2 separate regions of the Homo sapiens genome follow, and region 1 is linked to region 2. The links come from fine-mapping of genetic effects on gene expression. A gene starts in region 2. The other region holds a variant in brackets. All regions are shown on one strand. Distances are between the middles of the regions.

What was found. PIP is the estimated chance that this variant, and not a neighbour inherited with it, causes the effect.
Region 1: its variant is the best candidate, but not a certain one, in a credible set for the expression of CDAN1 in whole blood (TOPMed, PIP 0.68).

What each region holds. Positions count from the first base shown.
Region 1 is chr15:43,140,126-43,156,119 of GRCh38, forward strand. TMEM62 (transmembrane protein 62) reads left to right here. Exons shown (of 14, transcript NM_024956.4): 5 at 6,368-6,509; 6 at 8,630-8,754; 7 at 8,904-9,026; 8 at 11,665-11,820; 9 at 14,547-14,706. It also overlaps the pseudogene FDPSP10. Among named protein-coding and RNA genes, the nearest start is that of TMEM62, 15 kb to the left of the region's middle. The variant T/G (reference allele first, on the strand shown) is at 9,996.
Region 2 is chr15:42,733,514-42,749,507 of GRCh38, forward strand. It overlaps CDAN1 (codanin 1), which reads right to left and starts at 3,615. Exons shown (of 28, transcript NM_138477.4): 1 at 3,500-3,615; 2 at 2,789-3,267; 3 at 2,362-2,565; 4 at 1,997-2,166; 5 at 1,748-1,861; 6 at 1,587-1,665; 7 at 713-833; 8 at 425-534. The coding sequence starts at 3,589. TTBK2 (tau tubulin kinase 2) reads right to left here. Exons shown (of 15, transcript NM_173500.4): 15 at 5,217-12,744. The coding sequence ends at 12,282. TTBK2-AS1 (TTBK2 antisense RNA 1) reads left to right here and starts at 5,605. Exons shown (of 3, transcript NR_186317.1): 1 at 5,605-5,722; 2 at 7,940-8,050; 3 at 8,489-9,689. RefSeq lists silencers at 2,842-3,131, 3,222-3,361, 3,552-3,801.

The DNA.
Region 1 (15,994 bases), 410 kb after region 2:
CTCCCCACCCTTGCAGTCTCTAGGTCACTTTTTCCGCTTGTAGATTTTGCGCGCCAACCCCAGAAAGATGACTGGGGGCAGGGGAGCTGCGTACTGTTCAATGAGACCCATAACGTGGCTGTAACTGTCTTCCTATTATTGCAAGAACATGGCCGGCAGATCCAGCTCCTCATATACTGCCTTCACCGGGGCCACCTTCTCGGCCTCCTTCTGCCCAAAATTCTCCTTCAGAATCTGGTACTGTTCTGGAGTGGCCCGTTGCAGACACTGAACCACCAGCCAGCTGCATTTGTTGTCCTGGATGTCAGTGCCAACTTTGGCGGTCACATTGGGGTCCCCAAAGAGGTGAGGGTAATCATCCTGATCTGAAAGAACTCTCCCTCTCCCATCTCCAGCAGGATCTTCTTGGCATTGGTATTCTCCTTCTCTCTATCAATACCTGCATATACATGGCTGCAGCTACAGGAAGGTAGAAGGAGTAGAAACTGCCTTGTACGTGACACTAGATTTGTACCTCTTTTCAGTGAATCTGCCAAGATCCACATTGCCCTGGGGGGCTATGATGAGATCCAGGGTCTGCCCAATCTCAGTCTGATAGAAACTCTGCCGGAAGAGCTGGATCAGGTTCAGGTAATAGGGCTGCTCATGGCAATAGAGCTTCAGCAGGCGGTACATACATGCTTCCCTTCCAGAAGCATAGCAACATTGATGGCATCCAAACCCGCGCCCGGCTTCTGATATCAGCAGATCTGTCCCCAGTGGGTGAGGGATGAATCCATGATGTCATTTGCCACCAGGAAGAAAGCTTGCAGCAGTTCCACACACGAGCCCATAGTCAGGGCCCGCTGGAGACTCTCAGTATCCTGTTTCCTCGGCTCCACCAGCTCCCAGAATGCTACTAGCACCATCAAAGCCCAGTGATACTTGCCTCCAATGGCATTGTACTACAGGACCTCCGTGAGCTGGGTGATAGCATCTCCTGTCTCTGGGTGCCCCATCTCATCCTCAGTCAGCACCCTAACAATCTGGGAGAAGCACTGAATGAAATCCTGCTTTTCTTGGACAGAAATGTCTGATTTCTGGTCTCCATTCATTCTGAGGGAGGAGCAAAGGGCTCTGTTCCTGGATGTGGGTTCCTGCTCCATAGCTGATGACTTTAAGTGGAGCCAATGCCCACTTACCATTCTGAAAATCCTTGGGTGCTTAAGCGTTATGCTAAATCTACTCTGCCTGTGTTCTATATATGGAACAACAAAGCCTGGATAATAATAGCACATCTCTTTACAGCATGGTTTACTGAATATTTTAAGTCCACTATTGAGAACTACTGCTCAGAAAAAAATATTCCCTTCAAAATATCAATGGTCATTGACAATGCACCTGGTCACGCAAGAGCTCTGAGGAAGATGTACAAGGAGATGAATGTTATTTTCATGCCTGCTAGCGCAGTATTCATTCTATAGCCAATGGATCAAGGAGTAATTTCAACTTTCAACTCTTACTATTTAAGAAACACATTTCATAAGACTATAGCTGCCTTAGATTATGATTCCTCTGATGGATGTGGGCAGTCAATTGAAAAATTTATGGAAAGGATTCACCATTCTAGATGCCATTAAGAACAGTTGCAATTAATGGGAGGAGGTTAAAATAACAACATGAACAGGAGGGAAGAAGTTGATTCCAACCCTCATGGATGACTTTGAGGGGTTCAAGACTTCAGTGGAGGAAGAACTGTAAATGTGGAAATAGCAAGAGAACTAGAATTAGAAGTGGAGCCTGAAGAGGTGACTAAATTGCTGCAATCTTATGATAAAACTTGAACAGATGACAAGTTGCTTCTTATGGATGAGCAGAAAAAGTGGTTTCTTGAGAAGGAATCTACTCCTTCTAAATATGGTGTGAACATTTTTGAAATGACAACAAAGGATTTAGAATTATACATAAACTTAGTTGATAAAGCAATAACAGTGTTGGAGAGGATTGGATTTCTTTGGGTAAAATGCTATCAAGCAGCATTGCATGCTATAGAGAAATTCTTTTTTTTTTTTTTTTTTTGAGATGGAGGCTTGCTCTGTCACCCAGGCTGGGGTGCAGTGGTGCGATCTTGGCTCACTGCAACCTCCGCCTCCCGGGTTCAAGCAATTCTCCTGCCTCAGCCTCCTAAGTAGCTGGGACTACAGGCGCCTGCCACCATGACCCGCTAATTTTTATATTTTAGTAGAGACAGGGTTTCACCATATTGGCCAGGCTGGTCTTGAACTCCTGACCTCGTGATCTGCCCACCTCGGCCTCCCAAAGTGCTGGGATTACAGGGGTGAGCCACCGCGCCCGGCCAAGAAATTCTTGTGAAAGGAAAAGTCAATTGATGTAGCAAACTTCATGGTTACCTTATTTTAAGAAATTACCACAGCCACCCCAACCACCACCCTGATCAGTCAGCAGCCACCAACGTCAAAACAAGACCCTCCACCAGTAAAAAGATTTTGACTCGCTGAAGGCTCAGATGATCATTAGCATTTTTAGCAGTAAGGTTTTTTTTTGTTTTTTTGGTTTTTTTTTTGAGACAGGGTCTCTCTGTCACCCAGGCTGGAGTGCAATGGCGCGATCTCAGCTCACTGCAATCTCCACCTTCCAGGCTCAAAGTGATCCTCCCACCTCAGCCTCTCGGGTAGCTGGGACCACAGGCGTGAGCCACCATGCCTGGCTAATTACTGTGTTTTTTATAGAGACAGGGTTTCTAAATGTTGCCCAGGCTAGTCTTGAACTCCTGGGCTCAAGTGATCCACTCACCTCGGCCTCCCAAAGTGCTAGGGTAACAGGCGTGAGCCACCATGCCCAGTCAGTAGAAGTATTTATAAATTAAGGTATGTGCATTGTTTTTCTAGACATGATGCAATTGCACACTAAATAGACTATAGTATGGTGTAAACATAACTTTTTTTTTTTCTTTTGAGACAGGATCTTGCTCTGTTGCCCAGGCTGGAGTGCAGTGGCACCATCTTGGCTCACTGCAACCTCCACCTCCCTGGTTCAAGCGAGTCTCCTGGCTCAGCCTCCTGAGTAGCTGGGACTACAGGCATGTGCCACCATGCCTGGATAATTTTTGTATTTTTAGTAGAGACAGAGTTTTGCCATGTTGGCCAGGCTGGTCTCAAACTCCTGACCTCAAGTGATCTGCCTGCCTTGGCCTCCAAAAGTGCTGAGATTACAGGCATAAGCCACTACGCCCAGCCGTAAACATAACTTTCATACACACTGGGAAACCAAAAAATTCATGTGACTCGCTTTTTTGCAATATTTGCTTTATTGTGGTGTCAGGAACCACAATATCTCTGAAATATGCATGCAGTTTAATGCTTTGTTTTGGCTAATGGTACTTTTAATATTCCACACGGGCTTAAAAAATTGTTTAAGTCATTGATACATAGGAAAAGTCATTTATATCAGAGCTTGTCAGCCACACTACTGAGGTCACTGGGTTTTCAGAATCCTGAGATACTGATTCTCCTGGCCTCTGTGGTGGCTGGAGAGCCCAGTTAGTCACCTGGCTGCTTTATCTTTTCATCCTGTGTCATACAAATATTAAAATAATCTTTATTTGTCACAAATGTGAAAAGGCAAGGGATCTCTGAATTAGAAACCAATTGTCTAGTTTCATTATGTTTAGATTCCTCTTTTGGTTGCAGTGCACTTTTCAGCCTCAGGGTATTCAGTAGCTTTGTTCTGCATTGTCAATCAATCATGTAGCAAATATTTATTGAGAATCCATCCCTAGTTGGATAGTGTGAGAGATACATGAGTTAATGTTAAAAATTTGGCTTTTGCCTTCAAGGAACTGATAGTGTAGTTAAGGGACATCAGAATTATTTAGGAAACAATTAGAAAATAACATGAAGAAATGGCCGAGGAAATGCTAGATTATTTGGTACACATGATAATCACTATGAGAAATTAGAAAAGCATGGGGGTGGACATAGAGAAGACTTTATAAAAGAAGCAAAAAGTGTGTCCAATCTTAAAAGATGAGTAGCATTTGAAGAAGTAAGACATGCCAAGGAGGATATTTTAGGCAAAAAGATAGGTATGAAGAGATCTTTAAAAGCTACAGACTGGGAAACCAAAAACTGAACTTTGCAGGGGCAGTAAGAAAACTGGTGTCACCAGAATTAACATTCATACTGAGGACTAGTATGACACTGGATAGGCAGCCTAGGGCTAATTTATGGAGGTCTTAAGTAACAAGCATAGAAGTTGAGATGTGATGGGTAATAGTTCATAATTCAGCATAGGTTCTTAAGGAGGCAAGTAACATAATTAAAATAGTGTTTTATAAATGGCAATCCCACAATAAAAAAGGAAAAAGATGGGATAAAAAGGAAAAAAGAGATATTGGAGTTATGTGGACTAAATAGGAGGGTCCTGCAATAGTCTAGTCATGATAATGAAAAGTCATACCCATCTGAACTAAGTTCTTGGATATGGAGATGGTGACATCAATTTGAGGATGATAGGTCAAAAAGCACTGGTTAACTGAGTTTGTATGATTAGAGTCACCATACATTGGAAGAGGAGGTTGTTCTCTTTTGTTAATGTGAGAAAGGAAGAGGACAGAGATGAAAATCTTTCACTTCCTGTTAACTGTTTGTATCTTTCATGGTGACTGTGGGGAGTTAGGAGACATGTTCAAAAGTAATTAACAGGACTTGGGGCTGAGTGGTTATTGGGAAAGTAAAGTGAATAGTCACTTTAAAGTTTCTTACCTTTGTATTTTTGTTTTTAGCCACCTAAACTTTATCTGAATTTAATAAATGGCATTTTACTAAAAATATAAATATTACAGAAATACCAATCTGAAGAAAAAAAATTAAAGTTAAATCTTGATCTTAAAAATGTCCCAGAGAGGAGGCAGAGCTTGCAGTGAGCCAAGATCGCGTCACTGCACTCCAGCCTGGGCGACAGAGTGAGACTCCGTCTCAAAAAAAAAAAAAAAAGATTCTGAGGAATAACTGAACATAAAATAAGCAAGAAAAAATATAAGTAAAAATTTTAATTTAGAATAAAACCCTGAAATAGAATTTTTTTTTTTTTTTTTTTGAGACAGAGTCTCATTCTGTCATCTAGGCTGGAGTGCAGTGGCACGATCTCCACTCACTGCAAGCTCCGCCTCCCGGGTTCAAGCCATTGTCCTGCCTCAGCCTCTGGAGTAGCTGGGACTACAGGCGCCCGCCAGCACGCCCGGCTAATTTTTTTGTATTTTTAGTAGAGATGGGGTTTCACCATGTTAGCCAGGATGGTCTCGATCTCCTGACCTCGTGATCCGCCTACCTCGGCCTTCCAAAGTGCTGGGATTACAGGCGGGAGCCACCGCGCCTGGCCCTGAAATGGAAATTTAAAAAATACCAAGAAGAAAGGCAGTAGAACTAATTGACATTGTTTAAATTGGGTTTGACTAATTTCTGAGTATTAGTTGTAATGTCTATATCATATATTTACTCGGGTTACATTATATTTGATGGTTGTTGTGGCCCACTAGCATATTAAATTTCAGGAGTTTATTTGTATTTTTAAATATATGCTGTTAGGTAAAAATCATGTAAGACACTTAGATAAATGATAATACCAACTTTTCTTATAATGTTCTGACATTTGAATAATATAGGTATGCCCTCCAATAAAATCTATACTTTCCTTCTTATTTATTCAACACATACTTAATGAGTGCCTGCCCTGTACTGTGTTACTCATCCTTTCTTCCTGGTCTTCACTCTGCAGTTTTATGGACACCTGAACACTGTTGACGCTTAAGGTGGTAAACTTTCATTAGTGGATATAGACCCTGTGTATGTTATCAATATATCTTTAGGAACTGAAAAAGATTTAACAACCCAGACCTAGACTAATATTTTTTCTCCTTGCTTGAAGACTTCATCTTTGCAAGTCTTTCTTGTGAATTAAGCCTCTGTAGTCCTGTTTCAAGAAGTAGACAGCTTTTTTATCTCACTACACCAAGAATTCTAGGTACTTAGTATGCCCTCACTAAATCTGCAAATGATTGATAAATACTGTTCCACTGGATTTTGATTTCTTTTTGAACATTTAATGGACTCCCTAAAAGAGCCGTCTTACTTCTGAACTTGGTGAACTTGTATTTGGTTATTGAATGAGTTTGCATGAGTCTTTGGGGACAATGGGAGAAAAACTTTGAAATTTCATCAGTTTATCCATTGTGGATCTAGTTTAGTATATTTCTGTCAGATCAGCAAATCTCGTTTTCAAAGGAAGGTAAAATCTAGCGTATTAGGGAAGGAATTTTAAAGCATTGTCTTTTTATTACACTAACACCCTCCTGTCTTCTATTTTTTAGGAAATATTCTGCTGTACGTAGAGATGGCTCTTTCCATTATGTCCACAGTACTCCCTTTGGCAACTATTCGTTCATCTGTGTAGATGCCACTGTAAATCCAGGGCCTAAGAGACCCTATAATTTCTTTGGAATTTTAGATAAGGTGCAGTAAAAATCTTACTTCCCTTTGTAGCTTACTTATTTTTTCATGGATACGTGTGGATCACTTAAAGTTATCAAAAGTAAACTAGTTGTTATCTAGGAATGCTTTGGAGAAATTTAACTTGGTTACAGGTATGGCTAGAAGTTACTGGCTATTTCAGCACTATTTTTGCTATCCTTTTTCTTGTCCCAAAATCTGAGAAAGAAGTACCTCACACTTTATGGAGTAAACATTTATTAAATAGGTACTGAGTACAGGATGCACTTTGCAAGTTACAGGACATACAGCTTTGTGTGGTATATTCCTAAGTTCCCACAATTGCCAGTTCTAACTAGTGTTTATTTTTTGAGACGGAGTTTTGCTCTGTCGGCCAGGCTGGAGTGCAGTGGTGTGATTTCAGCTCACTGCAACCTCCACATCCCAGGCTCAAGCAATTCTTGTGCCTCAGCCTCCCAAATAGCTAAGATTACAGGCACGTGCCACCATGCCCAGCTAATTTTTGCATTTTTAGTAGAAAGGGGGTTTCGCCATGTTGGCCAGGGTGGTCTCGAACTCCTGATCTCAAGTGATCCACCTGCCTCAGCCTCCCAAAGTGCTGGGATTACAGGCATGAGCCACTGTGCCCAGCTGGTCTGTATTTTTTTAAAGAAGAGAAGGATGACTATTGAAATCAATAAGTTTATTTTCAAGTATTTTGACAAGGCTAGGTGATTGCTGGATTTAAACTGTGTGGAAAGTCTCATTTGAGAACCTCTTATTATTTCTTGGTACAGTAAATGCCAACTCATTATTTAATAAGCATATGCCCCTAAGTAAGACATATGTGCTCATATGAAAGAATACAAAAGTGATAAGATCAAGTTCTTAGACTCTTAGAGTATTTAATCTAGTGGTGAGGTATAAGACCAGTATAGAAATAAATATAATAAAGAGCAGAATTTGCTAAATTAGAAGTAAGAGGTTCAGAGTTATACGAGAGTTCGAAAGAATGTGAAATCAAGTGAACAGAATATTGTCAAATGCATTGTGTTACTTTAGGCATTTTATTTAATTAGGTTCTATTTTGTTTCTTATCTATCAAGTGTCTTTAGTCAGGGTTGATGAACTTATATTAAATCCCATTCCTTAGTATAGTGTTTTTTAAAGGTAGAATTCAAGGATCATGTACATGAAAACCAACTGGAGTGTTACAAAATACAGATTCCCTTGCCTTGCCCCAGACTTATCAAATTAAAAACCCTGAGGGTAGATCCCAGAAATGTATTGCTGTAAGCACCTTACATATAATATTAATGCATATTTACATAGGTACCAGTTATTTTTTGAAATCAACTTTTGAGGTATGATTTGAGTACTATAAAATACCCTCATTTTAAATGTTTGAAGAGTTTTGACAAATGTATATATTGGTATAACTGTCACCACAGTTAAGACATAGAACATTTCCATCATCCTAAAGTCTTGTCATCCTTGTACAGTCTGTCTTCACTTCCTAGGGAATTACTGATTGGTTTTCTATCAGTATAGATTCATTTTGTTTGTTCTAAAATTTTGTATAAATGAAATCATACAGTATGTACTCTTGGGTCTGGCTTCTTTTGCTCAGTATAATGTTTCTGAGATCCATCCGTATGATTGTGTGTATCAGTAGTTCTTTCCTTTCTGTTGCTGAGTGCTGTTCCATCGTGTGGATGTATTACAACTTGTTGATGGTTTCTAGTTTTTGGCTATTATCAGAGCTGTTATAAACATTTAGGTAGAAGTCTTTCCATGATATTATTTTAGAAGTTTAGTTTCTGTATCCTCTTTATTAATCGTAAAGTGTTATACAAAGCTGTAAAGATTAGTGATGACTTCATTTCGCAGTTTCCTTATCTATTAAAAGAGGATAATACCTACCCTACCTATTGCAGAGTTATTTTTAGTATCAAATGAAATATAATGTATGTGAAAACAATTTGAAACTTACAGAGGTCCATAGAGGTCATTAACTAGTAAGGTTTAAGGCCTAGACACATATAATAATTATTATAAATCTTCAGAGGAGTTTTCTAATCTGTTGACATTAGATTTTAGCCTGAGCCCTAATTTAAGATCCTTCCATTTTTCTCCCATCTCAGAAAAAGATGGAGGAGCTCTTATTACTGGCCAAGGAAAGCAGTCGGAGCAACCATACAATTTGGTTTGGACACTTTACAACATCCACTATTCTTTCTCCATCACCAGGAATCCGGTCAATAATGAGGTGAGACAAGCTTCCAAAATCAGAATTAATTTGTTTTTAGTTTTTTTATTTTGCTGTTACCTATTCTGCTTTTCTGGCAAGACATTTTTATTAGTTTGGCCTCACGCGTTATCTTTGTTCATTTATTTCATTTATTTTTCATTGGTTAGTTCGGCTATAGCTTATTTGTGTGGACATCTCCATACACTTGGTGGACTGATGCCTGTTTTGCACACTCGTCACTTCCAGGGCACTTTGGAACTTGAGGTGGGAGACTGGAAGGATAATAGGAGGTAAGGGAACCTCCCCATAGAAGAAAACTTATACACATAAGTTTTGCCAAAGCAATGATAGTTTTCTTACTGATATCATGGGTGATCACAGTTAAAGAAAAACTTGTGATATTTCTGTTTTTTTAAAGTAATATATGTCTCTGAAATCTTTGTCATTTTGCGGAAACCTTGTCATAGCAGGGATGTTTACTATCACTATGTTACATTGGATTTTCAAGATATGTCCATTAGGAATTGGACTCAAACTCTAGTGTGCACAAGAATTATGGAGGAGCTTATGAAAAATAAAAATTTTCAGGCGCTGCCTCTAGAGATTTTGATTGTGTTGGTCTGGATTAGGGTCCAACAAATTACATTTTTTTTTTTTTTTGAGACAGAGTCACGTTCAGCTGCCCAGAGTAGCTGAGATTACAGGCACCCACCATCATGCTCAGCTAATTTTTGTATTTTAGTAGAGATGGGGTTTCACCATGTTTGCCAGGCTGGTCTTGAACTCTTGACCTCAGGTGATCCACCCGCCTCGGCCTCCCAAAGTACTAGGATTACAGGCGTGAGCCATGGCGCCTGGCCCAAACTGCCTTTTTTAAAAGCCCTCTGGGTGGTCTATGCATGACAATTTGAGAAATACTAGGACTAGAAGTGTCATGTTTTTCCTCCTGAATTTTGTATCTACCATACTGGTTATTGTTACAAGATGGTAGTGATTTAACTTCTTCAAATAGATGATAGTTGGCTTTTTTAAGGTTAAAGTCTCTCTAAGAGAAAATATGTTTATCAAAAGCATGTAGTGTAGTTAAATATATGGTTTTTTCTTTTTTAAAAAGAAGTATTTAAGTGAAATAGTTTATCAAGTTTTGAGGAGTATCATCTTATTGTTTAACTATTACAGTTATTTAATTTACACAAACCCTGTGCTCTCAGATAATAGGTACTCAGCAAAGGTTTGTTGAGCTGAATATGTTATCTTTT[T/G]ATTTTTAACTACTTCCATTAATTAAAAAGGAACTTTACATCTTGGAAGGTACTTTCTCATTTTGGTTGACTTTTTAAAAACTGTGTGAGTTATGCTTGAAACGTGTAATTATTTGGCAACTATAATTACTTTGAGCTAAGAGTTGTCTGTTCATGGCTGTGAGGCTGTGGGCTGGGCTATGATTGCCTTTTGTGAGATAGTCTTACTAAGCCTTGACCAGCTTCTTTATTTCTTCTAAGTGCTCTAGTTACAAGTTGTGATGTTAATTATGAAGGCATTTCCTTTCTCTCTCCACCAGTTTTCCTGTGTCCAACCCTGGGGTTTTATTTGGAGCGTACTCCAGATAAAAGGACCTAAACTTTACCTGCCCTTATAAACACTTAAATTGTGTTAGTTACAATAGAATAATTTTTAAAAACAGTATATTGGAAATATTAGGCTAGGCCTTGTTGTAGATGCAGATAAATCCAGAAATATCAGTGGCTTAACACAAATGTTTTTCATTTGTATAAATTCAATATGAGTCAGAACAACTCTTATCCATGGGATGAGTCAGTAATTCAGACTTCCTCCATCTTAAAATTCCTATTTCGACATGTCGATTCCAGGGCAGGGAAGAGAGCAAGGAGAACTCACACCCACTCTTAAGTACTTTGGACCACAGGCATGATATGTGTCACTTCTCTTCACAGCCCATTGGCCAAAACTAGTCACATGGTCCCAACCTGATACCAGGAGACTGGGAAATTCAGGGGAATGTGTAGAGAATTTCGTGAGCACTATTGTTTCTGCCATAGTGAATCATTTCTTTTTTTAGTTCTAAAAGTTAGAAAATATAAAACTTTGGTTATTCTTTAATGAATATTTTATACCTTTTGTTATTGCATTTGGAAAATGAAAACAACTTTAATTTCTTTGAAATTATAGAAATAAATGTTTAATGCTAGGCATGGTGGCTTACGCCTATAATCCCAGCACTTTGGGAAGCCAAGGTGAGGGGGATCACCTGCGGTCAGGAGTTCGAGACCAGCCTGGCCAACATGGTGAAACCCTATCTCTGCTAAAAATAGCCAGGTGTGGTGGCGGGCACCTGTAATCCCAGCTACTTGGGAGGCTGAGGCAGAGGTTGCAGTGAGCCAAGACTGCGCCACTGCACTCCAGCCTGGGTGACGGAGTGAGACTCCATCTCAAAAATAAGAAAAAAAAAAAAAAAAAAGAAAGAAAGGTTTAAAAGAAGCATGAAAGATTTCTAATTTTGTTCATATCAACCATTTTAATATTTTATGTAGCATTGTTGATGGGATGAAGAATGTCAAGTATTAGGGTTATAATAAATATTTTAGGTTCAAAATTGTCTTAAAGTACAGGGATAAGATGAGTTACTTCAACAAGTATTTATTTAAAAATTAAAGAGTACATGCCGTGTACCAGGTGTTGTTCAAGAGCACAGTTGAATCCATTGCCCAGTCAGAGGCAGTTATGTGACAAATGTGAAGGATAAAGTGATGGGGTAAGGGAAGAAAGAAAGAAAATATTACTTAATCTGTATTCAAATTAATCATGTAAAAAAGTCCTAGTTATGTATTTTTATATTTGTTCTGTATATTACCTTCATGACCTCTTACAATGTGAAGTGACTAAATTACCTTATCATTATCTGGTCTTTAGGTACCGGATTTTTGCTTTTGATCACGACCTCTTTAGCTTTGCAGATTTGATCTTTGGGAAGTGGCCTGTGGTTCTTATCACCAATCCTAAATCACTCCTTTATAGTTGTGGTGAACATGAACCACTAGAAAGACTTCTTCACTCAACACACATCAGGTATGTAGCAATTTTTTAGAATTTACTTTCAGTTTGATAATGAAGGAGAATAAGTCATTGTGATTGCATTCCCATGTGAAAGCTATGAGATGCCCCATTTTAGTTTTCTCAACAACCTAAACATTATATAAAGATAGATTGCTTACTGTTTTGTTTCCATTAAGTTAAAAAGCATATCATTTTTTTAAGCTGATGAAATTTTAAAAACCATTCAGAAATCTATAATTCTACCATTATTATTTTTGTTTTATTTTATTCCAGCCTTTTTATTTGGACGCTTTTACATTGCTATAAGCATAATGTACATATTCCTTTATAGTCTACTTTTTAAAATTTGCATTATATATCAAATTTTTTTTCATTTGTTATGTAGCCTTCTAAGAAAGCAAAAGCTATATATATAATCCTTATGGAATTGAAAATTCAGTTGGCAAATGAATTTGTTTTGTTTTGTTTTGTTTTGATTTTCGACAGAGTCTTGCTTTGTTGCCCGGGCTGGAGTGCAGTGGCCTGATCTTGGCTCACTGCAACCACTGCCTCCCGAGTTCAAGCTTTTCTCATGCCTCAGCCTCTGGAGTAGCTGAGATTACAGATGTGTGCCACCACGCCTGGCTAATTTTTGTATTTTTAGTAGAGAGAGGGTTTCACCGCGTTGGCCAGGCTGGTCTCGAACTCCTGACCTCAAGGGATCCGCCCTCCTACGCCTCCCCAAGTGCTGGGATTACAGGCTTGAACCACCATGCCTGGCCATGAATTTGATTATATAGATTAATAGAATCCAAATGGGACATTAACATTCTTTTTGCAAAGAGATATATAACTTGTTTCAAATGTAAGAGCACTTTTTAAAATATACTTTTACAATTTATTTTGAAAAGTAATACAATAGAACAACCTTTGGAAAATAGGGTAATGGGATTTTAAGTATGTTTTTCTCCACTTCTAATAGAACTATTATTAGCACTTCTGAGTATTTCTTCTCAGGCATTCTCTCTTAAGATGTTTTTATATAATTATAATCATAAGGCACAGTCTATTCTAATTCCTGATTTGTTTTCTTTCAGCACAAAGAATGTACCACAGTTTTTCTAACCATTTTCATATCTCATTGGTGAACTTTTAAGGTTTTTCTTATTTGTGGATGAATATCTGGTACATATATATTCTTCCTTCACTTGAATAATTTCTTTAAGAAAGAGTTCTAGAAGTGGGATTCTAGGTGAAAGAATTTGAATTCTTTTATGACTGTTGATAAAAATTGCTCAATCCCTTTTTTTTTGGAGCTAAAATCACTATTTTTAATCATGGTAAGCATGATTAAACAAAGTACACATGGCATAAAATGTACCATTTTAACCATTTTCAAGTGTACAGTTCAGTAGCATTAAGTTTGCTTCAAGTTTACATTGTTTTGCAACCATCACCATTATCCATTTCCAGAACATTTATCATTTTCTAAAACTGAAACTTTTACCCATTAAACAATAACTTCCTGTTCTTCCCTCTCCCACAGCCCCTGGCAACCACCAATCTACTTTCTGTCTCTATGAATTTGACTACTCTAGCTAACTCATATAAGTGGAACCATTCAATATTTATACTTTTGTGACTGGCTTATTTTCATTTAACATGATGTCTTCAAGGTTTATACATGTTGTGGCATATGTCAGAATTTCCTTCCTTTTAAAGGCTGAATAATGTTCCATTGTACATTGTGTGTGTGTGTGTGTGTGTGTGTGTGTATATACACACATATGTATACACACATACACACATACCACATTTTGTTTATGTGTTCAATGGACACTTGGGTTGCTTCTAACTTTTGGCTATATTGAATAACGCTTCTATGAATATGAGTGTACAGATAACGGTTCAAGTCCCTGCTGTCACTTCTTTTAGATATATATCCAGAAGTGGAATTGCTGGATCATATGGTAATTATCTGTTTAATTTTTTAAGGAGCTGCCATACTGTTTTCCATGGTGGCTGCACCATTTTACATTCCCACCAGCAGTGTATCAGGTATCCAATTACTTTCAACAACAGATGCTAATTTATCATATTACCAAGCAATATGAATGCCAAATTCACAATACTCTTATTATTATTGGATATTATGCTTTAAAAAGTATTTACTAATTAACTTGTAAAAAATGGTACCAAGATGTTTACATTTATTGTTTTCATCACTAATGAAATGGAACACACATGTGTCAGTCAGGTTTTTTGGTGGGAGCTGGATATCAGGTTTAGGTGTCATACTCTCTGAAAGGGCTTGGTAGCCTAGTTCTGGTTATAACCCTGTTTCTTTGGGACAGACACCCTGGTACCAAATGAGTAGATGGTAGGCTTGACATTAGATTAACAAAATGAGATTTCCACCCTATATTATTTTCCTAAGAGAAAAATCAGTACTTCTGGAGTTTCTTCAGAAAGAACTTTGAATCTACCTTACCTAGATTTGTCAAAAGAAAATTGATTTTTCTTTCTAAAAAGTAAAAGAATAGTTCCGAATTTCTTACCAGTTCAGTTTTGCTAATTGTCCAACTCCAGAAGCCACCATTCGGAAAGAAACCAGATCATATCAATAGTGGCTCCTGCTGTTGTACAATATGATGGTTCTGCCTATACGTGTATATCTGCAAGTTACAATAAGGTTATTCTCCTTTGCAAAAACAATGACAAACCTCAAACCATGTGTTTTATATATGCTCTCATTTTAGAGTCTTGGCCTTTTCCTTATCCTCCATTACTTCTGTCACAGTTAAGATTGATGGAGTTCATTTAGGCCAGGCTGTTCATGTGTCTGGTCCCATTTTCGTACTGAAGTGGAATCCTAGAAACTACAGTAGTGGGACACATAACATAGAAGTAATCGTCCAGGTAAGTTAGTAATTTATATTTACTATGTAAATGATTAAGCTGTAGCCACAATGAATTCTGGTTTGGAATTTTTTAGTCAATTGGTAATGAAACCATGTTTAAAAAAAAACTGGGGGCCGGGCATGGTGGCTCACGCCTGTAATCCCAGCACTTTGGGAGGCCAAGGCAGGCAGATCACCTAAGCATAGGAGTTCGAGACCAGCCTGGGCAAAACAGTGAAACCCTGTCTTTACAAAAAAATACAAAAATTGGCTGGGCACAGTGGCATGTGCCTGTAGTCCCAGCTACTCAGGAGGCTGAGGCAGGAGAATCCACTTGAGCCCAGGAGGTAGAGGTTGCAGTGAGCTGAGATTGCACCACTGCACTCCAGCCTGGGCAACAGAGCCAGACCCTGTCTCAAAATAAACAAAAAAAGTGAAAAAATTGGGGCTGAGGCTGGAGGATCGCTTGAGGCCAGTAGTTTGAGACCAGCCAGGGCAACATAGTGAGACCGCATCTCAACAAAAAAATAAAAGTTAGCTGGGCATGGTGGCGTGCATCTGTAGTCCTAGCTACTTGGGAGGCTGAGATGGAAGGATCGCTTGAGCCCAGGAGTTCAAGGTTATAGTGAGCTCTGATTGTGCCAGTGCACTCTAGCCTGAGTAACAAAGCGAGACCCTATCTCAAAAAATAAATAAATAAAAATAAAAATAAATTGAATACACTGTATTTAGTATATTCTGAAAATGGGCACTTGGAATAATTCTAATATTAGATTAAAAACTAGGCAGAGGAGAAGAGGAGTGGCCATAGACTCCCTTTTTTTAGCCCCAGGAAATCATTCTTGTGTTTTCTTCCAACTTTGCCCAGAATCTTTTCATAATAGGGGCAAATTCCCCAGTATACCCAAAGGTAATAGAATAAGTCAGAAAACATGTATTATGTATCCATGTCTTTGATTGCTGTCTCTAATTGTAGGACAATTGTGTCATTATTTGAAAGCTTCAGGACACAGAATTTTCAGTGCATCAGAAGCACTTTTTTGTTAGAGGAATAAGCATTGTTAGCATATGCAGTACCAGTTTGCCTTTTCTTATTCTGATTCAATTTAGGGCATTTAATTTATTAGCACCTGCCAGAGTAGAAAATAATAATCATTACCAAAATAGAGCAGTTTCATTAAACTCTTAAGGCGATAAGCTGTGCTCAGAAATTAGTTTCTTAAACACACACACACACACACACACCTGTCAATTTCTGCAACTTTATGATTTGATGACAGTTGTTAACTATTTAATCTTCTAATATT
Region 2 (15,994 bases):
TGATCCGCCCCTCGGCCTCCTGAAGTGCTAGGATTACAGGCGTGAGCCACCACACCCGGCCAGCAGCCCCATTTTTAAATTTCTCCAGAGTTCTCTATATGATGACAGTAGTGCTACAGACCAGCAGCACATTACAGGCTTCATGTACTTCTGTGGGCAGTGACAGTTCATCCTGGCACACTCTTGCTTGAGAACCCTGAGACTAAAACCATACACCTGTGAGATGGCTTGCTAAGCGCCGGGGTTCACAGATGCACATGAGAATGAAGCCAGGTGGTCCCTATGATGGCCGGCAGGAAGGACCTGGGGGGACTAACCCACCACCTGTTGGTGCCAAACTCCTAATTTCTATGAAACCAAACAGCTGCCTATTCCAGAAAAATGTCATCTCATTCCCTCCCCAAAAAGTCCCTTTTCTTATCACCTCTGTTTCTTAAAAGTATGAAAGGCTCGGTCACTGGAGAAGTTGGCACGATTGTCAGTCTCTGGCTGAAAGGAGACAGCTTGAGTAGAGGGAGGCATCACCAGAGAGACCTAAAATACAGCAGGAACGTTAGGAACTGCAGGGTCATGCTGAGAAAACTTCTCCCTCTTATTCTTGCCCAGAGTTAGCTCACATTACACTGAAGTGTCGTCAGCAGGGTTGCCTGAATTTATGAAAGCTAGGAAGGGTTAGGTCCAGGCTAGTGGGCAACTAAGCTGGGGTTACTACCTTGGCAACACTGCCCTCATAGGCAGCTCGAAGGCGGCCTTGCAGAGCTGGTGAGAAGCACAGCAGCCGCTCATTCTCAGCCAGCAGCTTCAAGGTCCCTTTGTCCAGGTTGGAAAGAACCCTGCAGGGACAAGAGCACCTATGACTGAGACCAGAACACAGACTGCAAGTAGGAAGCAAGCACCTGCACACCACAGAGGATCTCTAAGGCATGGCGCAGGTATGCAAGCCCAGATATGTACTGCAAGGTCATGGGCCAAGGATCAAAGATAATGAAAGTCAAGGGGAGGATATGAGACTTTACAGAGCAAGGACCAAGACAGCAGGACAGGAACATTACCCAGAAACCAAAGCTCAGCTGCCAAGACCACAGGGGTCCATTTCTTTTTCTTTTTTTTTGAGATGGGGGTCTCTGTCACCCAGGCTGGGCTGGGCGTCACCCAGGCTGCAGTGGCGTGATCTCACTACAGCCTGGACCTCCCAGGCTCAGGAGATCCTTCCACCTCAGCCTCCTAAGTAGCTGGGATTATAGGCGCACTCCCCCACACCCGGCCTTTTTTTTTTTTTTTTTTTGGTGGAGATGGGATTTTGTCATGTTGCCCAGGCTGGTCTAAAACTCCTGGGCCTAAGTCACTGTCCTGCCTCGGCCTCTCAAAGTGGTGGGAATGCAGGCGTGAGCCACCACACCTGGCCCGATCTCAATTCTTTCAGGGACTACATTCATAGCCTTAACACAAAATTAAAGAAAGATTATAGGTAGGAGAAGGTCCAGGACCACTGCCCCTGTGTTAAGCACCAGCATATATCCCAAGCAGCCAGAGAGCTAAGCAGATGATGAGAATGAGGCCCAAATGCCTCAGCCAGGGAAACTCACTGAAAGTGACACTCCAAAACCTGCACTGCAAAGAAGACACAATCGTGGATGCTTTGGAACAGTGGACTTTCCAGGGAATCTAGAAGGACAGTACCAAGCTGTCAGTTAAGAACGGTCCCGTTTCTAGACCCCATGTCTCAAAAGGAGGCTTGCTCACTGACCTAGGACAGCTGGACTTAGTTCAGGGTCGCTGTCCTTGGCAGTCACCATCCTCCGGGCAGTGAGGAGCTGAAAGACGAAGAAAAGCTCCAAGAAGAGGTTTGGTACCAGGTTCTCTAGATAGATACAAAAAGAAAGCCCATGGTATGGGCACCATTTGGAGCCAAGGCTCAGTTCCAAGTGCCTTACCAATTCTCTTACCCATAAGTTCTACAAGTGTCTCCACTCCCGCTCCCTCCGCTCTCACTCACCAGCAATGCACGAGGAGTAAACAAGGGCTACAAGCTCCAGGCGCTGGCGGGAAGACACTCTGGCAGGGTCTGCAGGTTCATCTGTGAGGCTTCCTGTCCGGCTGGGGAGGGGCGACCCCAATTCTGGGGTGGGACAGGTGGGGGTAGGTGACTGCTGCAGCTGCTTAGAGCTATGGAATAAAGAAATTTCATGAGCAGTCAGCTTGGCTTCCCTGCTACGGCCACACTCAGGTCACTCCAGAGAAGATACCAACAGCCCAGGAGACAAACCCAGAGTCCCCAAGAGGGAAATCAATTTCAGGGAAAACCCCTGAAGATCCCCCACAGCGAGGAAACCGATATCCCCAGGAGCGGCCAGGCCATACCGCTCCTTCCTGAGCATCTCTCGCTCCTCTTGCAGACTTCTGCACCCTGGGGGAAGGCCAAGGCCCCAAGGGCTAGTGTCCAGGGCTGAGGGTTGGGAACTGGGGACACAGCTGATTGGGGGTGAGGTGAAGCAGGTCTTGGGCTTGGAGAGTGACCGCTCTTCGCTCACCGGAGTTGGGTTGATCCTGCGAGAAGGCTTCGTCCTGCTGAGAGTAGCCACAGGTTTTTCTCAAATTCCTATCTTCAAACATCTCCCCTCCACCACCGCAACAGCTAGACCTCTTGCCAAAAAACCCCACAAAAACCCTCACCATCACCCCCAGCCTTCTACCCATCCTGGCGCTCCACTGCGGAGCGCCGAGCTCGAATGACTGACTCCCCAGAGCCTTCGTGGTACCCATCTCCTGCATGAGAGCTGAGTCTCACCCTGTAGGGCCGGGGGGAACCGAGCCTACGGGAGGGAACTCCTCCAGGTTGCTGAGGTTTGGCGGATCAGACAGCGTGAGGCTGGGGCGGCTGGGGCTGCCAGAGCCCCTAAGCCTCCGGCCCCCGGCTCCGGGCAGGCTCTCCCCGCTGACCCCCTCCTCCAGGCCGCGGCCTCCACGCTCGCGGGCCGGCCCCGGGCCCCGCCTCCTGCCCCCGCGGCGGGCCAGAGGGGCCTCGGCAGCGGTGCTCTGGGCCTCGGTCGGAGGGAAAAGCTGGCTGCGCGCCCCGCGGCTACCCCGCGGCGGGCCTCCCGGCCTCCCTGGCAAGGCTGCCGAGGCGCCCGGGGTCTTGGCGGGGGTCGGGGGCCCCTGCGGGAGGACGCGGCTGCTCTGCTCCCTCAGGAAGTTCAACAGGAACGGTACGAATTCTTTCCGCAGGGCCCGGAGTGAGCTCAGCGCGGCCGCCTCCCCAGCGTTATCCTAGGGCAGAAGCACAGGTGGAGGGGCGAGAGGGTCAGCCGCCGGCCCGCGGGCCGTGAGCAGCCGGGGCCGTAGGGCGCGCCTCGGGTGGGCGGCCCGGGCAGCGGCGCCCAGTTGGAGTGCACTCGGCCCGGCTGGCAGCCAGGCGCCCTAGAGGAAGGGGACTGGAGGGCTGGACTCCACTGCGGGAACCGGCTTCGAGTCAGACCTGGGGGCGTGTCACCGCTGTTACCTCCGAACCCTGGGTGCTGCGCGCGATCCACCGCACGACGGCTGCGACCGACACCTCTTCTCGCAGCAGCGACTCCAAAACGGCCGCCATCCCGGTCGGGGCGCTCTGGGGCGACTGCGCAGGCGCCGGCGCGCCGCGGGCGGCCAGGGAGGGGCGGGGCCGGCGGCGGGGAACGACCGTTGGGTCGCGGGATGGGGAGGGACCCGGCTGGCGGGGCGGGGCGGAGCCGGCTGTTGCCCAGACCCACGGAGTCAAGGCCTCGCTGAGTCCTCAACCCCGGCCGAGAGGCCGGTTGTTAGGAGGTGAAATGTGGATCACAGCGCCTGGGGAGGCCCACCTTGGCTGCCCGCCCTGGAGCGACCTGAAGGGAGGGATTCGAGCTGGGAGTGGGGCTGCCGCGGGTCGGACGCCCCTCTAGGGAGACCCAGGACCCGGGAGAGAGGTAGAGGGGAGCAGAGACAGCCACCAGCTTCTATCTTCTGCTCTAAGCACATTCTTTCACGAGTTTAAGTTTCCTAGATCCAACTGGCACCACCCCAGAGAAATTATAATCTAATCTTTCATTTTGACTTTGTTCTTCTCAAAGGCCGATTTTTCAATCCCTTGGCCGAGCAGTACCCATCGGCTTTTCAGCGCTCACCATCAACTGACCATTTAGGAAAGAATTATTTCTAGGAGGTTCTTAATAATCCCCAAGCCACAACCCTTAAAGTGCCTCGGGCCACCCTGCACACAGAATTGCTTGTATGTAGCTTTATTTACTTAAGTGGGTTTACATGAGGTTAATATTTCAACTACTTTGCAGTTTAGATGTCAGTAAGCATATCATGATTAGCTTCTGGGAGCTTGAGGTTTGTATTTTTGGGTTTGGTGTTTTTTGTTTTTGTTTTGTTTTTTTTGAGACAGGGTCTTGCTCTGTTGCCCAGGCTGGAGTGCAGTGGCGTGAGCACGGCTCACTGCAGCCTTGGCCTCCTGGGCTCAAGCAATCCTCCCGACTCAGCCTCCCTAGGGCTATAGCCCAGCTAATGTTTTGGCCGGGAGAGGGCAGCAGATCCAAAGTGCTGGGATTATAGGCGTGGGCCACCACGCCCGGCCTGAGTAATTTCTTAATCTCCTTTATTTAATTTTATTTTGAGATGGAGTCTCGCTCTGTCACCCCCGGGGCTGGAATGCAGTGGGAGGCAGAGGTGGGCGGATCACGAGGTCGAGAGATGGAGACCATCCTGGCCAACATGGTGAAACCGTGTCTCTAATAAAAATACAAAAATTAACTGGGCGTGGTGGCACGCGCCTGTAGTCCTAGCTACTGGGGAGGCTGAGGCAGGAGAATCGCTTGAACCTGGGAGGCGGAGGTTGCAGTGATCCAAGATCACGCCACTGCACTCCAGCCTGGGTGACAGAGCGAGACTCCATCTCAAAAACAAAACAAAACAAAAAAACCTGAGAGAGGATTTTGAAGGTTGCTGCTCAGTGACAAATCAAGCAAGGGAATCCAAGCGGAGAAAAACAGATGGCACGAACATTCCATGTCAAACCAAACCAGGAGGGGTGAGGCAGTGCCCTTGTGAATGCCTCCTGAGAGTTGCTCTGGTTCAAAGGAAGGTTACGGGCGGAAGGATGAGGGTGGGGGTGCAGGAATCTCTCTAGTGGCAGAAGGGGTATTTCCTATGGAGAAGGAAAAAGTACCTCCAGCCAGACAGAATAATGGACTAAAAAGGAGCTTTTAATATTTTAATTTTATTACAGGAAAACATCTCCTAACTGCAGGGACACTTAACACCTAGCTTCTATTCAGTCCTGGGCTGCTTTTTCTAGGGAACTTCTAGATGTGGTACTGCATTTACAGTAACACTATCTGCTCCCCGTTGATCTTGTAACATCTGGTGTATTCAATAACTTTATTAAATTAGAAAAATATTTTCCACTTTTGAAATCCAGACCATCACACAAACAGAACTAGATTTTGCATGCGGAATGAATATTTTATTACTAGGTTATAAAAATAAAATACAAAATAATTTTAAAACAGAACTTAAAACACTGTACAAAGCTTTAATATGATACAAATGGGAAAATTAAATAAATAATTACACTTTTATGTACAGGTGGCCTATACAAAAGCACTCCATGTTTCTGCCGATACTCTGTCCTTGGTTGCCTGAGCAAAATTGTATAAAGGGAGCTGCTTGGAGGGGAAAGGAACACAATAAAACGCCTCTGGAGGTATTTCAAAGAGTAGTTTCTCATCTCTCTGATTTCAGGAAGAGGAGAAGAGAGGGAGAGAAAAGTGGAATTATTAAAGTCATCTAACTCATTGGTCTTGTTCAACAAGAAAGAATTCTGGTTTGTGGCTGAATCTGATTTAACAGCTGCCAATAGCTCATTACTTCTAAGATGTATATCTAATTCAAAACTAGATGCTCCCCCCTCCCTCTTTTTTCCCTAAAAGCTGGGAACTTGTAAGTAAATGGCCTAGTGAAATAGACACTGGCTATTTTAGAAAAAGGGTCAGAAGGTAGACCAGGAACTATGTATCAAGGAGAAGTAAGTGAGGCTCAAGCCCAGGCCACCTAGGCTGTGTTTATTCAGTCCACCCAATCCAATGTCAAAGCCCCAAGTGGGCCAGTGTTACCTTTATCTTCCCATCTTTGTATTTCTGAAAGCTTTGTCACCTCAGTGGACTACTTTGGCTGATGAACAGTTCAAATAGAAGATTGTTTTGGAAAAAGTCCCAAGGGCTTTCCCCTTCCTGGGTAGCTCCCTATAAGTCAAATTCAAGTTCTGGTAGCCTTGTTTACCCCTTGTAGGCGAGTGAAGAATGCCCACACAGAGTTCAGATGTGGTGAAATGCTGGGCATTGATTCCTCAGGATTTAAACTGCATATTATTAGAGAAAAAGAGCATCATATGGCAAGGGTAGTCTATATAAAAACTTGGTTTACTCAATGTTTTTAATTAGGCGAGTGAACACTTATGTACATAATATTAAATAATATTAAACTAATAAAAAGAGAGGTAAAATTCCTATCCATTGTTATTGTAAAATTATATCATCAGCAAATTCTATAGTCACATGGGCTCAAAGATCTGCCTCATCCAATCTTGTTCCCTAGGTCAAGGAACCCAGAGCCAGGGTACCTGGGAGGCATGGTCAGCATCGCCAGTGTACATATATTCTGTGCCCATACTACCACTAACGCTTCCAGCTGAAGAGGAGGCAGAAAACCGTTACATTGCACAGGGCCATGAAAGGAAAGGCTTCACTACTTTTACATGTTACCTTAAGACCAAAGATCCAGCAAAGTCTAAGGAAATATCCTAATCATTACTGTGTAATGTTACTTTTTTGCTATTCAGTGTCTTGAGATTGTGTGGAAATTCAAGGTGACCTGATCTTGTCACATACTTTAATTTTCTGATCCAAATTTGCTGAAAGGGAATAATTAAACATCAAGCTTAAATATTTTTTTAAGTAGGAGCAGACAATCACAACTGAATTAGAAGACGTCTTAATGGGCATAGACTTTATTTTTGTTTTACTTTTTTTTTTTTTTTTTTTTGAGACGGAGTCTCACTCTGTCGCCCAGGCTGGAGTGCAGTGGGGCGATCTTGGCTTACTGTAATCTTCTGCCTCCCAGGTTCAAGCGATTCTCCTGCCTCAGCCTCCTGAGCATCTGGGACTACAGGCGCCCGCCACCATGCCCAGCTAATTTTTTGTATTTTCAGTAGAGACGGGGTTTCACCCTGTTAGCCAGGATGGTCTCGATCTCCTCACCTCGTGATCTGCCCGCCTCAGCCTCCCAAAGAGCTGGGATTACAGGCATGAGCCACTGCGCCTGGCCTTGTTTTACTTTTTAAAATTTCTGTGAGCTGCTCTAGAAAACTAAAGGACGAAAACTTTACTGTCATAATTCCAAGTTCAGTCAGGGATTTCTCAGAATTGAGGTGTGCAGCATCCAGATTCCCCTTTATGTGGATAGGGATCCCTGTGCCATGTCTTGCACTTACCTAAGAACTATAGGAATTCTCCATGTACCTCCTACAGTTTTTCTAGCAGTGTTGGACAATGGATTCTAAAGGTTCCTGAGACTTTGTTAAATTTCTCATAATTCCAGAGGGAAGGCCAAAATATTGAGAATACTCAATGATAGGATGAGTTTCCACTCTACTTCCTTATCCTCAAGGCACACACCAGAGTTCCACTGGGTGAGGACAGGGAAGTAGGATGTCCCAACACCCTCTGAGGGTTTTCATGCATTAATCCCGCCATATGGGCTGATGGTTGGAACTGCCTTTAGTTCTCTAAGTAAAGGTCTAAAAATGCACCTGTGGTTTCTGAACTTGGGTATACGCTGATACATAAGGACTACCATAGAAGTTACATGCCTTAATCCTGTAATACTTTTGTGTGGTATCATTCTGCTAATATATTGTCCACAGGGCCAAACCCCAAGTTACACAGCGCAACAGTACTTGTCAACCACTCCATCTCCTCAGTGACACAGGTGCTAAAGTACCTCTCCCCTGAGGCAAAGTCCCGACACATCTGTGGTAAGTGCACATAAACAGAAATGGGCAGATTTTGAAAGTGAATGCAAACAACTTAATTCCAAAATACATAAACATGACAGAAGAAGTGGTTCTCTAACATATGCCATGTTTGATCAATATAAAGAATAAGTTTTTAAAATATAAAAGACTTTGATCTCCAAGACTAAATCTAGACTTATCTGCAAATAAGTAAATTTTCAAACAGCCAGGGGAAAATGCATTTTTTTCACCGAGTCTCACTAAATCATTCTGAATTCTGGATCCTGCTTCTCGTATCACCAATTCCTAATGTTAGGAATGTAGAACTGTCTGCTCTTGGGGAAAAAAAAAGCATCTGTTTTTAATTCAAAGCTCTGGGTATAGAAAAACTAATTATGGTTTTAGCTATCTGTGTCTGGGTTTATAAAACATGCACCAATGTACACTTTCTCCTTGTAGATTGAATGCAACTATAGAAGTATTAGCATAAAAATATGTGGCCTGGAAGGAATCTCTGAAGATACTGAAGAACCTCAAGTTCCCTACATTGCTAGGAGCCAAGGGAAGGAGACACTGTACACCTAGAGCGCTGAATTAGCAGCTGAGGTTTTAGTATTTGAAAGCAAATAATATAAAGCGAGTAATGTCTACAGTGGGTCTCAGTTACCATTTGGCTACTTATTTAGGACTCGATTAACTTGGCAACTTTTACAAAAAACATTCACATCACAACATGCAACTTAAAAAACAGTTAATGTAACTATGCCACTGTCAGCAAGGCCAGCTTGCATACCAGAGTTAAGAATGAGAGTGTCTGTCTGCCTAGGGCTTAACATTCAAAGATATTTATAATCTGTGTTTTAAGGTTAAATTTTATATGACCCAGTTTTCCTTCTTTGTTCACTATACACTAAAATTAAACGCCTCTACGCTGTGCAAGAAATCACTATGTGTGATTTTACTATTTCAACCAATCCATAGACCCTGAGGATTTGGCAGCAGAATTCAGGAGAAATGCTACCTAAAGTGATTGAGCTGTTGCTAATTCTACCTTCTGTTCCACTCAAGTACCTCCAGGGACTAACAAGGGAAGGCAAGGGCAACTGTGACTGACTAGGTAACCAGCTATTCTGTTGTGACAGAAGAAACCAGGTAATACTTGATTTTCAAAAGATAATTTTAACTGCTGCCCTATACTACTTTTAGTATAGTTTGGCTTGACCTTAATAGCCATGTCCCTCATCTTAGATAGAATAACCAAATTGGTTTAAAATTACTTGATCTATGTCACTGAAACCTGAAATATGCCATCACTAAGAGAACCCCCAAATAAAAAATAAAGAACTAAAAAACACAACCAAACCAAATCAAACCAAAAACCTCATTCTCTGTATCATACTTTAAAACTAAAATAAAAATCCCTGTGTCACAGGTGCTTGCTCAGGGCTGCCAACTTCTATTTTTCACCTGAGAGACATCTAAAAGCGCAAACTATGCTTGTAAAAACCAAAAAGTAAATCTCTACATAGGACAATACTTATAAGCAGACCTATTGATACCACTTATATATAATTAGTCTGTTTTCTTTAGAAAGTATCAGAGCAGAAACGTCTTTGGTTAATTCTTTCCTCTACATGCAAAATAAAATATTCTTAAACGATGGACTGTTTATCTCTGGATCTTGATGAGTTTGTCAATGCCATTTAGAAAAGGGGACAACACACTAGAAAAGTTGAGATAAAAATGGAAGGAACCAAGAAAGAGAGAAAACATTCAGTTGCCACATTCCCATCACTGTCAGTTCCAACTGCCAGCAGAGAAATGCCAATAAGAAATAAAATCACACACACGTACCACAGTTGTAGCTTCATCAGCTTTTCCAATGATTACTACTAGCATATTTCCGACTAAAGGGGTCAGGATTTAAAGCTAGCTACTTTTAGCACAATTTAGCTAATGCAACAGAAATATGACAATTTCTTCATTATTCCCCCGACCCCCTGCAAAAAAAGTGAGATGAAAAGAGGAAAGTAGAATGGCAATTTTTAAGAAATGTTTTAAAAATCTGTCAGACTCATCATCATCCCAGTTTATCCACTCTAACTATAAGGAGAGAACTATGTGATTAACATGACAAATCTCTGAACCAGTATTACAAGCATGTCCCTGTAATTTTTTCCCTATTAAAATCTTTTTGAAATGAAAATTAAATAACCTATCTTGGCTTGTTAAATACTGCCCACCCTTGCATTGTACACAGGGAAGGCAAGAAGACTCTGAGGTGTCACATGCCAAGAACATAGTTTCAGAAAATGAAGATAGGCAAGGCCCAAGTGTACATGAGGCACACAATAGAAAAGGAATTTCGCCATCTGTGATCTCGAAATTACAAATGGAGAATGACAAAGAATGACTCTATATAAGGATATGTCTCTCTATATATTTATAAATATTTATATAATTTACCATGAAGACATGCAAGTAGTGTTATAGCAACTATTATACAATATAATACAGAAGGACTGATCTTCCAATATTACAGTTGCTTTAGATAAACAGCAAGTATGTCTTATCTATTGCATTCCTCTGGAGTGTTTGAAACTGGAGAGAAATTAAGATTCCACACTATGCTACATTTCTTATAAGAGACGTTATATGCCTCAATAGTGTTTTGAGTTTGTTTTTTTAAAAAGCTCAACACAGATAAAGAGAACAAGAGAAGTTCAGTGCAGCTTCAGGGCAGCTTTGATGCAGCATTAGAAGATGTTCACTTGGGGAGGAAATGTATTCCTTTCTTTTTTTTTTGTTTCCCAATTCAACTGTATTAGGTTTGGCAGCAAACACAAGGTCAAACAGAAAGCACATATGTTTGCTAGAAGGCAAATTTCAACAGCAAGCAGACCAATTTACCTGACCTTAATAAGGTCTTTACAACACAAAACACCTAGAGAGTATAAAAACAGCCCATTTTAAAAGTCTGGTAGACTTTCATTTGCCTGATTCCTATTAGAAGAGTGAGATTAGAACAAATATCTTCCTCTTTACAGCTTCGTAAATTGAGATTGTATGAAAATCAGGCCAAGAAGCCCAAATGTTGAACTAAAACACAGGAGAAGCAGGTAATAAAACATTAAAAAAGAAATATTTGCCTAAATTTATTTCCCCAGATATTAATTCCTTATTGGCTAAATGTATAAAATACAAAGTTTGAGGATTCTAAGCCTCAATAATATATCTAATTTATTTCTAAATCTCAAATCACAGTCCAAAGCATTGTGCTTCCCTCGTATCATCTTGGATGCTGATATTACAAACAGTTGGAACCCAGAAGACTTAAGGAAGCAGTCTACTCTGGTCAGTTTTCCTTCTACTCAAGTTTCTAAAGGAGGACACTTAACAGAGATGAAAGGGCATCTTCTATCTTGAAGGCTATTAACCCACACTTTCTTTCTCTCCCTAAACACTAAAGCCTGCAAAATAGCTCTAGTTAGACTTTTCTTTCCTTTACCTAACTTTCTTATTTTTCATAATAAAAATGTAATATGTTAAGAACTCTTGCTCTAAAAAAAAAAAATCAGGGGGACCTAAAAAAAAGTAATTGGATTTGATAGTACAACTAGGACCATAAAATAAAAGCAGAGAGATTGAATCAGACGAGACATACAAAATTTTAAAAAAAAATCTGAACTCCAGGGAGGGTACTAGGAATGAGGCAAAGTAAAGGTGTTCATTCTCAATACACGAAATAAACACACAAGCCAAATATACATGAATACTGGCTCCCTGGCAACAGACTTCTTATATAATCTAATATCTGATCAATGACTCTTCAGGGTGGGAAAGTTTTGAATGAAAATATCAAACAAGAAGTTTCACTTTTGCTATATAATCTTTGAATTGAGGCTTAAAAAAATTAGGCAACCCCCCTAAAATTCCATTCTATCTCCTATCCTCAACTCTTTTGTTTCAAAGGCAGCTTAAAAAATGAGAGCTCATTTTAATGAGTTTCTCCCCCTTGGATTTTTGCTCTATTTTTCCTTCTTGTACAAAGACATTGATTCCTAATCTACTTGCTGCCTGCCTTAGGTAATTCCTTATCATGTATTATGTCTTCTTATAAATAATTGATCATGTTACTTTCTTTTGCAAGAGAAGATCAACACTGATTTTTTTACATAGAAAGTACAGGGACACACATGCATCAGGTTTAGGAGGAAGATCTCACACCTTTCAAAGAGATGCAGCCTGGCTCCTATCTGCTGAGTTTACTGGCTGGCTTACTCTTCCCTTGGGGGGTTTTAGTGCTGGCTGAGTGGTGGTGGAGGCTGCCGGATCCTTTCAGGCCATTCTTGCTGGGTTTGCAATGCTCCTGTTGGCAGGACCTCCTGGAGGAGGAAGATCCTGAGTGGCTGGGAGGTGACTTGCTTCTCCCCAGATGTGGGGACGAACTCCTCTGGTCATGGTGGGGCCGTCCAGCCCTAGATGGTGAGGAACTAGACGTGCGAGGCAAGGATGAGCTTCGAGGAGAGGCACTGGGACTCCTGCGAGGGACAACTGGACTCTTGGGTGGTGTTTTTGGATTGTGAGGAGATCCTGGACTCTTGCACTGAGTAGTGCTCCGGGGTTTCTGAGATCCATTTTGAAGAATTTGGGCCAGGCGGGAGAAAAGGTCTGAGTCGGAGTTACTACTCCCTAGGACTTTATATCTGCGTAGCCTTAAAAGAACAGAGAAAATATATTTTAATTTTAATTCATTTCAAGTGTGCCTAAAAAGTCACAATGTCCCAAAATCATAATGTGAATGTGTAGAAATCAGAAAATAGACTAACAGGATACAGGGTTACTCTGTCATATACTAGTTGTATGACCCTGGACAAATTCTTCAATCTCTCCCTGCTTTCAATGGGAATACTGTCTATCTCACAGGGTCACTGAACAGACCAAGGGCAGTGACCCAAGTACGTAGATGAACATCTGCCATGAAGAAGCCCTTAAATGGTATTCGTTCCCTTCCTCCTATGCCATGTTTATTCTGCTAATTTTCAGATGAATTTAACTAGCATGTTAAATTGTCTCTAGCATGTTAGCACATAAGACAGAGAGTAAACCATACTGTGTAAGGATGTTAGGACAGGAATCCTACAAACACGAAATCCCACAATGTAAGTGTTTTTTTTTTTAATTTTCTTTTTTCTGCCAAGGATCTGTCACCCCTAAGTCTTCAACATGAACTACACTCAGCAACAGGAGGAACTACAGATAAATGTACATTCAACTCATTTAATAATTTACAAGAGAAAAGAGTAGTCATTGGTTTCTGTGGACCTCAGTTTCTATTCCTGTCAATAGTCTGGGATTAAGGAGGGTGGAGGCTGGAACTGACTGCCCACTCCATACTGGCAACTGAGCTTGGGCCTCAGATTTTTTTTTTTTTTTTTTTTAAACAGGGTCTTGCTCTGTCACTCAGGCTGAAGTGCAGTGGGATGATCACAGCTCACTGCAGTCTCGACCTCCTGGGCTCATGCAATCCTCCCACCTCAGCCTCCTGAGTAGCTGGGATGACAGGTGTGCACCTGTAGTGCATGCCTGGCTAATTTTTATATTTTGTGTAGAGACGGTTTTGCCACATTGCCCAGGCTGGTGTCAAACTCCTGAGCTCTAGCAATCCTCCTGTCTCAGCCTCCCAAAGTGCTGGGATTACAAGCATGAACCGTAGTGCCCCGGCCCTTGGGCCTCAGAATTCTTAGAGTATTCATATGAATAGCAAATGTCTTCTTTGTCCTAAATGTCTTTCTGGTTTGGCCTAAGAATCAAAGAAAATGGAACATATAAAAGTGTTTTTATAAACTACAAAGCAGTGGTCCCCAACCTTTTTAGCACCAAGGAGCAGTTTCGTGGAAGACAATTTTTCCACGATGGGGGGAGGAGGGGCAAGGATGGTTTCAGGATGAAAGTGTTCCACCCCAGATCATCAGGCATTAATTAGATTCTCATAAGGAGCGTACAACCTAGATCTCTCCCATGTGCAGTTCACAACAGGGTTCACGCTCCTATGGGAATCTGATGCCACTGCTGATCTGATAGGAGGCGGAGCTCAGGCGGTAATGCCTCCTGCCGTGCAGCCCTGGGGTGGGGAGGGCCTGCTATAAAGCAGTCTACAATATATTTTAGTGGCAATGCCAAATTACGTAGTGAGAAGGACCCTAGGGCCCCTCTAATAATAAAACTATGGTAATGGAAAGTGTACAGCAAAGGAACAGACAAATGAATGGAACAGAGCATTGAATCCAAAAAGATCCCCATGTTTCTATGGGAAATGAGTATTGCAATATCACTAACTACTTGGAAAAAAACTTCACATCATATATAATGATACACTTTAGATCGATAGTAAATTTATACACAAAGCACAAAACTATAAGGGTACTGGAAATTACTACCTTTTAAAAAATATTAGGGTTGAAGGACCTTCCTATGCATGATATAAAACACAATTAATAAAAAATGTTCAGTTCCATGAACACTAAACTTTTCTATCAAACCAAAGGCACTACAACCCAAGTTAAAATTCAGACTAGGATAAAATATCTTCAATATAATTTGCAGAGAAGGGGGTTAGTTACAGAAAATAACCCAGGGCACGGTGGCTCACACCTGTAATCCCAGCACTTTGGGGGGTTGAGGTGGGTGGATAGCTTGAGGTCAGGAGTTCGAGATCAGCCTGGCCAACATGGCGAAACCCCATCTCTACTAAAATACAAAAAATTAGCTGGGTGTGGTGGCAGGTGCCTGTAATCCCAGCTATTCGGGACACTGAGACAGGAGAATCGCTTGAACTTGAGAGGCAGAGGTTGCAGTGAGCCGGGATCGCACCACTGCACTCCTGCCTGGGTGACAGAGCAAGATTCCGTCTCAAAAGAAAAAAAAAAAACTAACCCAATAGAATGTTTTGACATGAAGACAGACAACAACTCATAGAAGGATCCTCCCACCTCAGCCTCCCAAGTAGCTGGGAATACAGCTGTGTAGCACCCGTGCCTGGCTAATTCTTGTAGAGATGAGGTTTCACCATGTTGCCCAGGCTGGTCTCAAACTCCTGAGCTCAAGCAATCTGCCTGCCTCAGCCTCCCAAAGTGCTGGGATTACAGGTGTGAGCCACCACATTTGGCCCTGGAAAGCACTCTTCACTGGTTTACCACCTCCCAATATTTTCCCCTCTTCCTCAAAATATAAACATTCTGTGGTCAAATATATCAAGATAATATTTAAATAAAAAGTATAGCATGCAGTATATACTAAAGCAGTATCTTTACTATGTATGGTTGTATATACCATCAGACCTAGGGAAATCTATAGGATTTTTTTGGTTTAATTCATTATAATCAAGATAAACAGCACTGTTACCAGGGTCCATTTATCAAATCATGGACAACGTATTCTTCACTAGCATTTGACATCATAATGGCATTATGGGACATAATGGGATTCTGACTGAACAAAGCTAGAAAATTGCTGATCATCAAAATGCAACTGGAGACAGACATAATCTTTATTACATGCTAAGCAATGTACCAACTCCTAGATGATTGTGGCTTTGTTTCATTCTCCCAAAACTATTAAGCAAATATTTTGCCCACTCCGTAGATGAGGAAATGGAGGTTCTTACTGCTAGAAAGTGGGAGAGCCAAAAATTAACCTGGATCAGAGAAGATTCTGGGAAGACAGTAGAGTAGGAAGCACTAGGAATCTGTCTCCCCACCTAGGCAACTGCACTGGCAGAATCTGTCTGATGTAATTATCTTGGAAATCTGGAGTCTACCAAAGGCTTGCAACTTCCAGGAGAAGGCTTGGACTGTCAATTACAGTTAATTTTAGTCTATTTCAGATCTTAGCACAGTTAACAGCTACCCATCCCCCATTCCCGGCCCCATGGCAGGCAGCTGTGCACTTATTTCTGGAGCAGTG